Homo sapiens: one gene and its partners. The protein of the gene in region 3 interacts with the protein of the main gene of each other region in a pairwise test. Each region holds a gene or a part of one and is shown on either strand. Other genes may lie near its edges. The genes, in order: PCDHB12, SS18L2 and EMC2.

Region 1 (3,753 bases), on a different chromosome or scaffold from region 3:
CCAACTAATAACTTTTTTCCATCCTTAACTGACTTCAGTCTTCTTAAACATCTGGTTCCTCCAGATCTTGCGCTTAAAAGAGATTATGTTTCTTGTGAGTATCTTCAATGCAGGAACTTTACTTTAGGGGCACTTTTTGGAACTGCTAAGTTAATTGCTCTTCCACCTGCTTTCTGTCATAGAAAAATGTATGTGTTCACTTGTGTATTCTTAATCTTTGTTAGTTCCTACCATTTTAATTACTTTTCTGCCATTTTAGTGCATATTTTTTTTTAAAAAGAGAGGTTAATTGTGTGTGCTCAATTCATCTACTTTTCAAGTTTTACCCTTCTGTACCAATTACTATTTCAACCATGTATCCAGCTTACATTTTTAAGAATATTAATTGAATTTAACATTTTAAAATGCAGACTTGTTGGATTCTTCTCCCATCCATTCTTAGTGCACTTTAAGACTTTCTATAGTGAATATCACTGATGAGCCCTTAGCATCTGTTGCAAACAGTCTCCCTCATTTTGTACCAATGAGGTACTTTGGCTAGGACTGAAACCTTCCCAAGCTTAAGAGGTGGTCCCAGACAGGATTAAAACACAGTAATGGCCAGAGACAGGTCTTTAGATTCTAGGACTAAAATCTCCAACTATAATTCTATACCTCTTGAAACAATGATTGCTTCAGTGGCAGACACATGATCTTACTTGGTCTAATTAGAGTGAAAGTTAGGTTTTTGTTCTATGTTTAGGGATAGACTCTTACTTTCTCTTCCTGGGCTGAAAGAGAAAACAGATAGCTACAGTTGTGGCTACAATAAATTTTGGGAACCTAAGGCAAGTCAGCTTTAGGAATAAGAGTCTGCTTTAAATTAAACTAACTTGCTCATGCTTGTGTACTTATGAATTTTTTTGTAAATTATGAAAAACTGGAACTAAATGATGGGTTTACATAACATGTTCCACCCCAATCTCTTGCTTCATTTTCTGCCTGTTCACAATTCATTGCTATTAAGGAAATCTACAGAAGTGCCTTTTTATGCTGTTGTGTTGACCTATATATGCCTCATCTCATGGTTAATCCAGTTTCATAACTTCAGAAAGGATTTCTGAGATGACCTTTCCTTTACCTTATCACGTAAGGAAAGCCAAGTAGTAATAGAATTTCATTCAGCTTAACAATCACTTATACCCTGCTTGTTTCAGGCTTACAATTGTCTCAGAAACACTATGAATTCCTGGGAGCCAGGGATCACATCTTGTATCTGTGTTTACCACAACTGAACACATTTGGTTGTGAGAAGAGTGGGGAAAGACACTGAATAAATGCTTTAAAACAAAATCATCATCACAAACTATAAAGAATATAAAACGATTATTATGGAAGATAAAATATATTTTTAATTACTTCAACAGAAGGAATTATTTAAACGCAATATTTATTTGCTTCTGGAGGACATTTATGTAAATAAAATTTAGGTAGTGTTCATCAAACTGTGAAAATCTGTGGAGACGCGTGGTGGCGCTGCAGGATAATATCAAGAAAAAAATTACCCTGGAGGATGTTGTAGACCCTGTTATCCAGTACACGCGGAGAACTGGGAAGACAGAAAGAACAATCCTTTAAGGGAGAACCTAGAAGCCATTCAACAAGGTTAAAATCTTCAGGCTTCCGAGGATTTGGTAGACAGATCAGAGGCACGTTTCCCACAACTGCGAAGAGGCGCTGAGGCAATTCTGCAAGAAGATTTTGGGGTTTTGGAAAAGAAGCTATGGAAAACGGAGGGGCAGGCACTCTGCAGATAAGGCAAGTCCTGCTTTTCTTTGTTTTGCTGGGAATGTCTCAGGCGGGCTCTGAAACTGGGAACTTTTTGGTGATGGAGGAATTGCAGAGCGGGAGCTTTGTAGGAAATTTGGCAAAGACCCTGGGACTCGAGGTGAGTGAGCTGTCTTCGCGGGGGGCTCGGGTGGTTTCTAATGATAACAAAGAGTGTTTGCAGCTGGACACAAACACTGGGGATTTGCTCCTGAGAGAAATGCTAGACAGGGAGGAGCTCTGTGGCTCCAATGAGCCTTGTGTGCTGTATTTCCAAGTGTTAATGAAAAACCCCACGCAGTTTTTACAAATTGAGCTCCAGGTCAGGGATATAAATGATCACTCTCCCGTCTTCTTGGAAAAAGAAATGCTCTTAGAAATCCCAGAGAACAGTCCTGTTGGTGCTGTGTTCTTGCTTGAAAGTGCAAAGGATTTAGATGTAGGAATCAATGCTGTAAAAAGCTACACAATAAATCCGAACTCTCATTTCCACGTTAAAATAAGAGTCAATCCAGACAATAGGAAATACCCTGAGTTAGTTCTGGACAAGGCGCTGGATTATGAAGAGCGCCCGGAGCTCAGTTTCATCCTCACTGCTCTGGATGGCGGGTCCCCTCCCAGGTCTGGAACTGCCTTGGTCAGGGTGGTGGTTGTAGATATTAATGACAACTCCCCTGAGTTTGAGCAGGCTTTTTATGAGGTGAAGATTCTGGAGAATAGCATCCTTGGCTCCCTGGTTGTGACCGTCTCAGCCTGGGATTTAGACTCTGGAACAAACAGTGAACTATCCTATACCTTTTCCCATGCCTCAGAAGATATTCGCAAGACATTTGAAATTAATCAAAAGTCTGGTGACATTACTTTAACAGCACCTTTGGATTTTGAAGCAATTGAGTCATACTCAATAATCATTCAAGCCACAGATGGGGGAGGACTTTTTGGAAAATCTACAGTCAGAATTCAGGTGATGGATGTAAACGACAACGCTCCTGAAATCACTGTGTCATCAATTACCAGTCCAATCCCAGAAAACACTCCAGAGACTGTGGTTATGGTTTTCAGGATACGAGACAGAGACTCTGGGGACAACGGAAAGATGGTTTGTTCTATCCCGGAGGACATCCCATTCGTGCTAAAATCTTCGGTAAATAATTACTACACTTTGGAAACAGAGAGACCGCTGGACAGAGAGAGCAGAGCCGAGTACAACATCACCATCACCGTCACCGACTTGGGGACCCCCAGGCTAAAAACCGAGCACAACATAACCGTGCTGGTCTCCGACGTCAATGACAACGCCCCCGCCTTCACCCAAACTTCCTACGCCCTGTTCGTCCGCGAGAACAACAGCCCCGCCCTGCACATCGGCAGCATCAGCGCCACAGACAGAGACTCGGGCACCAACGCCCAGGTCAACTACTCGCTGCTGCCGTCCCAGGACCCGCACCTGCCCCTCGCCTCCCTGGTCTCCATCAACGCGGACAACGGCCACCTGTTTGCCCTCAGGTCGCTGGACTACGAGGCCCTGCAGGGGTTCCAGTTCCGCGTGGGCGCCACAGACCACGGCTCCCCGGCTTTGAGCAGCGAGGCGCTGGTGCGCGTGCTGGTGCTGGACGCCAACGACAACTCGCCCTTCGTGCTGTACCCGCTGCAGAACGGCTCCGCGCCCTGCACCGAGCTGGTGCCCTGGGCGGCCGAGCCGGGCTACCTGGTGACCAAGGTGGTGGCGGTGGACGGTGACTCGGGCCAGAACGCCTGGCTGTCGTACCAGCTGCTCAAGGCCACGGAGCCCGGGCTATTCGGCGTGTGGGCGCACAATGGCGAGGTGCGCACCGCCAGGCTGCTGAGCGAGCGCGACGCGGCCAAGCACAGGCTGGTGGTGCTGGTCAAGGACAATGGCGAGCCTCCGCGCTCGGCCACCGCCACGCTGCACGTGCTCCTGGTGGA
Region 2 (3,753 bases), on a different chromosome or scaffold from region 3:
ACTATTCTATTAAGGTATTCAGTGAGGGACTGTAGGTAATTTTTCTAGGGGGTAGGGATTGTGAAACATTTCTTCAGTAACAATGAAATAATATATTTTTCTATAAGAAATGGGCATAAGGTCGGCCGTGGTGGCTCATGCCTGTAATTCCAACACTTTGGGAGGTCGAGGTGGGTGGATCATCTGAGGTCAGGAGTTTGAGACCAGTCTGGCCAACATGGTGAAACCCTGTCTCTACTACAAATATAAAAATTAGCAGGGCGTGGTGGCACACGCCTGTAGTCCCAGCTACTCAGAGGCTGAGGCACGAGAATTGCTTGAACCTCAGAGGTGGAGGTTGCAGTGAGCCGAGATTGCACCACTGCACTCCAGCCTGGGTGACAGAGGGAGACTGTCTCAAAAAGAAAAAAAAAAAGAAAAGAAAAAAATGGGCGTAATACCTGGACTAGATTCGGAAAAGAGACTCAGACTCTATTTTCTCTCATTTTGGTATCTACTTAGGGAGTGCATTAAATTATTATGCACAATTTACCTTTGACTTAACTTGTAAATCCTTTGTTTGTCTTTGTGTGTGTGTCACTAACAGACTGACGGGAAGTTAGAAATGAGAGGAAGCTTAGCAGTCAAATGGCCTGACCCCTTCACTTAACAGAGAAAGGATGAGGCAGGGATCCAAGATGAGAAAGGGGCCATGGCTCTAATCTCCTGAGCTTAGTTTTCTGTGTGCTCTCACCCCCATCCCTGTTGTCATCAGCCGGCATAGCTTTGAGTGAAGGAGGCTTTGCAGTGAGAATAATTCACATTTTGAAGAAAGAGCCACGTCTGACTCCAGGCTCCGCAGTGTACTCGTTGTATGGTCTTGGGCAGGTTGGCAAACTCTTTGAGCCTCTCTTTCCTCAGTTCAAAGAGGGGCTTAACTGCGATCAATCACCCAAGACTCTTAGTTCGAGAAAGCACCGCATCACACAGGCTTCCCCTCTACCCACAGGTCAGGGGCGCGGGGGTGGGGGTACTTACTGCACGCACTCGTTCCCGCGGCCCTTGTTCTGATACTCCACAATACAGCGGATCAGCTGGTCATTCTCCTCAAGGAGCTGAAAGATCAGAGAAAGAAAGGGTCAGTGCAGGCCGGGCGCAGTGGCTCACGCCTGTAACCCCGGCCCTTTGGGAGGCCGATCTAGGCGGATCACGAGGTCAGGAGTTCGAGACTAGCCTGGCCAACATGGGGAAACCCCATACTAAAAATACAAAAATTAGCCGGGAGTGGCGTCGCGCTCCTGTAATCCCAGCTACTCAGGAGGCTGAGGCAGGAGACTCGCTTGAAGCCAGGAAGCGGTGGTTTCAGTGAGCCAAGATGCACCACTGCACTCCAGCCTGGGCGACAGAGCGGGACTCCGTCTCAAAAAAAAAAAAAAAAGGAGAGAAAGGGTTAGTGCAGTGTGACGTCTGGACGGCGGGGGACCGAACCCCATGCCGGGGTCCTGCCCCGGCGCCTGTGCTGATTTCGTGCCCATCTCACCCCGCACCCCGGCTGCTCAGCACCCTTCACAGTCAGCTGGGAGGCCGCTCACTACAGGATGCTTCTCGCACCCCGCAGCCCCTCGGGATCCCGACTTCTCTCCGCCCGCCCGCCCGCCCGCGTGGATGCTCACCCGCTGGATAGTCTCTTGATTGACTTCCGCCTTGCCCCTCAGCCAGTCCGGTACGAAGGCCACCGACATCCCGAGGAACCTCCGGAACCACGACCGCCAAGCAACTCGACCCACGATAGGTGGGGCCTACGCTCTCGAAGTTGATTGGATGCTCCCGCCTACAGGGCGGGGTACAGAAGGGACGTCATTTGTGACTGGACGCGCAAGAGCTATACTCAGCGCTTTCCTCGGTCCCAGCCCCCAGAACGCCGGGGGCGTTTTCGTATCCTTTGCGCTTGCGCAGTCTGGAGAGCGAAACTTGTGGGTTGGGGCTGGGTCTACTGCTGACCTACCTGGCGTCAGCACCTCCAGTGTTAGGCTGTGCATGCTTTTTTTTTTTTTGAGATGGAGTCTCGCTCTGTCGCCCAGGCTGGAGTGCAGTGGCGCATCTCAGCTCACTGCAAGCTCCGCCTCCTGGGACTACAGGCGCCCGCCACCACGCCCGTCTAATTTTTTGTATTAGTAGAGACGGGGTTTCACCATATTAGCCAGGATGGTCTCGGTCTCCTGACCTCGTGATCCGCCCGCCTCGGCCTCCCAAAGTGCTGGGTGTGCATACTCAATCTATCTGCAGGAGCGGTTTGCTCGGCTTCACCCAGCGTGTCTGGCACCCAGATACATGGCTTCAGATCCATTGTCCTCTCTACATCACTCTGTGCCTCCAGGTCTGCATCTGGAGCATGAACATTGGCTATGGCATTGTCTCCTGCCAGGCCAAATCTGCAGGCCAGGAAAACTCTGGTATTAGCTTTACTCTTTGCTGAACGAGAAATTCGCGTTTTTCCACATAGCCTGGACTTATTTGGGGCAGGAATAATGCTTATTAGGTTGGCAACCCTAAAAAGCACTGGTATTTTCTCCATTTTACAGATGACGAAACAGGTTAAGTAACTTGCCCAAGGTTCCTTAGCAAAGCCAGTCTCTGAATACGGGCAGCCTGGCTTTAGAACTCTCACCCTTAACAACCCGGGACTGCCCAGGCACCATACCGCAAAGGTGTTGTGCCGCAAGATGCAAGGAGGAAGCTGGACATACCTTCTTGGGCCACATGGTTACTCCTGGTGACCACTGCAACTGAATTGGTTGTAGTCTTCTAGACCAGTGGTCCCCAGCCTTTTTGGCACCAGGAATTGGTTTCGTGGAAGACAATTTTTCTTGTCTTCCACGGAGGTGGGGGTGGTTTTGGTATGAAACTCTTTTACCTCACATCAGCAGGCATTAGATTCTCATTAGGAGCGCGCAACCTAGATCTCTTGCAAGTCCAGTTCACAATAGGGTTCACGCTCCTGTGAGAATCTAATGCTCCCGCTGATCCTAATGCCCCCGCTGATCTGAGGGGGCAGAATGCTCGGCGGTAATGCTTATCCGCCCTCTGCTCACCTCCTGCTATGCGGTACCGGTCCCCTGTTCTAGCCATCCGTGGTGGATGTGGTAACAAGATTCGTTTTCCCTGGAGTGAGCAGCGGCCACTTCATTTAGGAGGGAGATCTTGGGAACCTACACTCCTAAAAAGGGGAGGTCCCTAGAGCTTTATTCCCCTGAGTGGTGGCCCTGATCCTGAGCAAGCTCATCTGCTTTACTGGGCTTTCTCTCCACAATCCCTTTATTCAAACCTGTGAAAAGGCAGCTTTCATCCCATTTCTTTTTTCTTTTTTTTTTGAGACAGAGTCTCGCTCTGTCACCCAGGCTGGAGTGCAGTGGTGTGATCTCGGCTCACTGCAACCTCTGCCTCCCGGGTTCAAGCGATTCTCCTGCCTCAGCCTGCTGAGTAGCTGGAATTACAGGTGCCTGCCACCACACCCGGCTAATTTTTTTTTTTGTATCTTTAGTAGACATGGGGTTTCACCATATTGGTCAGGCTAGTCTTGAACTCCTGACCTCGTGATCCGCCCGCTTCGGCCTCCAAAAGTGCTGGGATTACAGGTGTGAGCTACTGTGCCCGGCCTGCTTTCATCCCATTTCACAGAGAGGTAAACCCGGTGAGAGAAGTGAGGTAACACCTGAGCTGGGGCGGACTCAGGGCTTCCTGGTTACCAAGCCTGCACTGTTAACTCCACATCAG
Region 3 (3,753 bases):
TCAAGTGAATGATCATTTCTTCAAGTAACAATGCTGTCTTAAGCACTTAGTACTTGATTTATGATGTGTTTCTTGTCTTCTGTAATTAACTTAATTTGGCAAACTTCTCATGACCTGTTCAGAAAGATTAAGTGATCAAACACAGGTAACATCATAGAAGTAACAAGCTTCAGGAATTGGTAACCTGTCTCTGACCCCTCTGGCTACAGCTTAACATTATGATTCCCTCACTTCCTACACTCTAAACCATTAGATTAGTTTCTGTAGCTGAATCCTGATTTGAAAAAGTAAATAAAGGATGTTTCTAGGGGAAATGCCAGAGGAAAAAGAAAAAAAGCTTCTCATAAAAATCAAGATCACCTTGCCTTTCAAAAGGCATCACGAATTTAAGGAATTCATATGTTAAATATGGTAACAGCAATATCACATTTAAAATTTTGTCTTTTTATAATTTCCCCTGAGGACTAAAGGCTGTGAGGCATGCTTATTACTTCTGTTATCCAGTTAATAAATTCACTTACACAAGGATTTACCAGAAACAGAAAGCTTTTTCATTTACCACCATTTATGAAACATAAATAGGAACGGTCCTAATCAGATACTTAAAGGTCTAATTCTGAGAAAAAGTTTTATGGGTTGGGGGAGGGGTACAGAATAGGACATCACATAGTAACATTACCACGTAACATTTATTCTAATTGCTTTTAAATAGCAAAGTAAAAATAAAAAAAATTATGTAGAGCTAAAACCATAACATGTATTTTTAAATACAGTATTTTTCTTGGTTTATACTTAAACATAAAAATAATACAGTGTGATCTTTTAAAATTAGCTAATTTTAAAGAGTCAACTGAGATGGTGTCAACATTACTCACAACCAGTGCAATTTAGAATAAACCAAATAAATTTACTTGTGTCAGAACAAATAAAAGAAAGTTGGAAATACAAATCTATCACTTCAAATTTAATCTGACATGCAATTATTCTGTCTATTCCAGAATTGTATGGCAATTTAACTGATTAAGTCAGAATCATTTTTTCCCTCAAATCATGATTTAATTTTCTGTTTCCCAAAAGGATAGTAACAGAATCACTGCTGCAATCATAAATATCATATAAATCACTAGCACAGATTTACCAGTGCAACAAAGAAGGATTTATCTGGAAAATCATTGTGAGTAGGTTCACATTAAAGTTTTTCATGTGCATTAATCAAATGTGTCTGCTTCTACTGAACATGCTAAACCAATTACCTAATTGACGAGCAAATAGTAGCCATATTCTGTTTCATCATTAAGTGGAAACAAAGAAAGAAAAGCAGTTCTTGAAACCTAATTTTCCCTAATTTATAAATACGTAGAAAAATCCCATACGAAATATTATATACTCTATACCGGTTTATATTCCTAGATATGATTAAGAAATTCTCACTGAGATCCCAAAGATTTACCTAGTTATCAAGAATGTCATTCTCTGAAAGTTATATACTCTTTTACATTATTCACAAATACTGTATTTTTGTTTTCATACAGTTAGATTTTGCTTAAGTAAATCTTTCATAATTCTCTGTAAGATCTATAAGAAAACTCACCAGAAAAAAACACAAAAACAACCAAACAATAAAAACTTGCTTATCAAATTCAGAGGTCAGTGATTCATGCATTGTAATAACTGAGATACCTTGCTTGGGCTTAAATTTACCTTTACATAATTTGTGGAAAATACATGGGTAGACAAAGTAATAGGAAAAATGAAATGGACTGTAAATGAATGAATCTCAAAAACATGCTGAGTGAAAGAAGCCAGACACAGAAGAGCACATAACCTATGAACTCATTTATACAAAGTTATAGCACAAGCAAAACTAATGTTTGGTGATAAAAATCAGATCAGTGCTTGTCTGTCTCCCAGTGGGGGATGAGGTTGACTGCAAAATGGCAGAAGGAAAGTTTCTTGGGTGATGGAAATGCTATTTTGAGTGGGGGGCTGGTAAGGGGATGTACACATTTGTCAAAACTCAGACTGTATACTTAAAATATATGCACTTGATTACATGTAAATTATATCTCAATATACCTCAAGGGGGTCTTGTCACACTGAAGAGACAGGGAAAAGGAAAAACATAATAACTTATGTTTTAATTTCTTTAATTCTCAGAATATTTCATTATGGCCATCTTGCAGAAGAAAAGATACAGCAAGAGATGTTAGGTAATTTATCCAAGTTTGCATAGCTAATAATTATATCAGAGTCAAAATTTGAACCCAGACAACATGGGTTCAAATCTGTAATCTTCTCTTTACTACATTGAACTAGCTTCCATGGACGGGACTCATGATGGAACACAAAGATGGACAGAAACACTGGATATCCATATGGGGAGCAATGGACCCCCTATTTCACATCATACATAAAAATCAATTCCAGGCCAGATGCGGTGGCTCACACCTATAATCCTAGCACTCCATTGGGAGGCTGAGACAGGAGGATTACTTGAGGCCAGGAGTTTGAGACCAGCCTGTGCAATACAGCTGGACCTCATCTCTACAAAAAATTTAAAAGTTAGCCGAGCACGGTGACATGCGTCTACAGTACCAGCTAGTTGGGAGGCTGAGGCAGGAGGATAACTCAACCTGGGTGGTTGAGGGTGTAGTGAGCCATGATCATGCCACTGCACTCCAGCCTGGGCAACAGAACCAACCAGATTCTGTCTTAAAAAAATAAAAATTAAAAATTAAAAATAAATCAATTCCAAATGGGTTGTGGATTAAATACGAAAAGTAAAAGAATAGAAATTCTGAAGACACACAGAATTCTTTATGACCGTGAGTAGCAAAAGATTTCTTAAACAGAACACAAAAAACACAAACAAATGACTGAGGCATTCGAACACATTTCATTTCAGAACTTCTATTCATCAAGATCATATGAGCAAAAAAGTAAGAAGTTATACATATTTGCTTATACATATAACTAAAAAAGGGCTCATAAGCAAAAAACTAAAGAAATAAGTCATGCAAACCAATGAGAAAAACATTTCACGAAAGAGGACATCCAAATGGCAACTGATCATCAGGGACATGCAAAATAAAACCATGAAGTACCACTCTACACATGTACCAGAATGGCTGTAATTACAAAGACTGACAGAACCATGTGTTGGTGAAGATGTGGGGCTATTAGAACTCTTACCGCTGGTGGGAGTAAACTAATTTGGAAAATTGCCTTTAACTACTAAAGTTAAATATACATACATTCTATGACCCATATTTTCACTCAAAGGTATACAGAACTGCACATATATTCCACCAAAAGACCTGTACAGCAATATTCAGTATAGTTTATTCAAAATAGCCCAAACAGAAAATATTCCAAATGCATAGCAATAACTAAATTATAACATTCATACAATGAACTACAGAAGAAAATGAATGAACTACAGACACAAACAAGGATAAATCCCATAAACTGAATAATGATAGAAATATGCAAGACAAAAATGAATACATACTGGCTGATTCCATAAACTATAGGGTTATAAGTGAGTACTCTTAAGGAATACAAAAGGAGAAATTAAGAGGACTTACCAAGAGAGCTTTGGGATGCTGCAATGTTTATATTTATTAGCCTGGATACATTTACCTTATATTAGTCACTGAAAGGCACATTTATGACTTGCATCCTTTTTTCTGTTATAATTCTTATTTCTATGTTATTAATTTAGTAAAAATTGATTTTAAAATAGTTATGTCA

Evidence for each region.
Region 1: the proteins of EMC2 (region 3) and PCDHB12 interact in binary tests that used the Homo sapiens proteins (3 or more experiments, as listed by UniProt).
Region 2: the proteins of EMC2 (region 3) and SS18L2 interact in binary tests that used the Homo sapiens proteins (3 or more experiments, as listed by UniProt).

What each region holds. Positions count from the first base shown.
Region 1 is NC_000005.10:141,207,146-141,210,898, forward strand, and holds the start of PCDHB12 (protocadherin beta-12 precursor), read left to right. Parts: upstream 1-1,573; 5' UTR 1,574-1,762; coding exon 1,763-3,753. UniProt on the Homo sapiens protein: Potential calcium-dependent cell-adhesion protein. May be involved in the establishment and maintenance of specific neuronal connections in the brain.
Region 2 is NC_000003.12:42,588,866-42,592,618, reverse strand, and holds the start of SS18L2 (SS18-like protein 2), read right to left. Parts: upstream 1,760-3,753; 5' UTR 1,722-1,759; coding exon 1,653-1,721; intron 1,095-1,652; coding exon 1,018-1,094; intron 1-1,017.
Region 3 is NC_000008.11:108,481,560-108,485,312, reverse strand, and holds part of EMC2 (ER membrane protein complex subunit 2), read right to left. Parts: intron 1-3,753. UniProt on the Homo sapiens protein: Part of the endoplasmic reticulum membrane protein complex (EMC) that enables the energy-independent insertion into endoplasmic reticulum membranes of newly synthesized membrane proteins.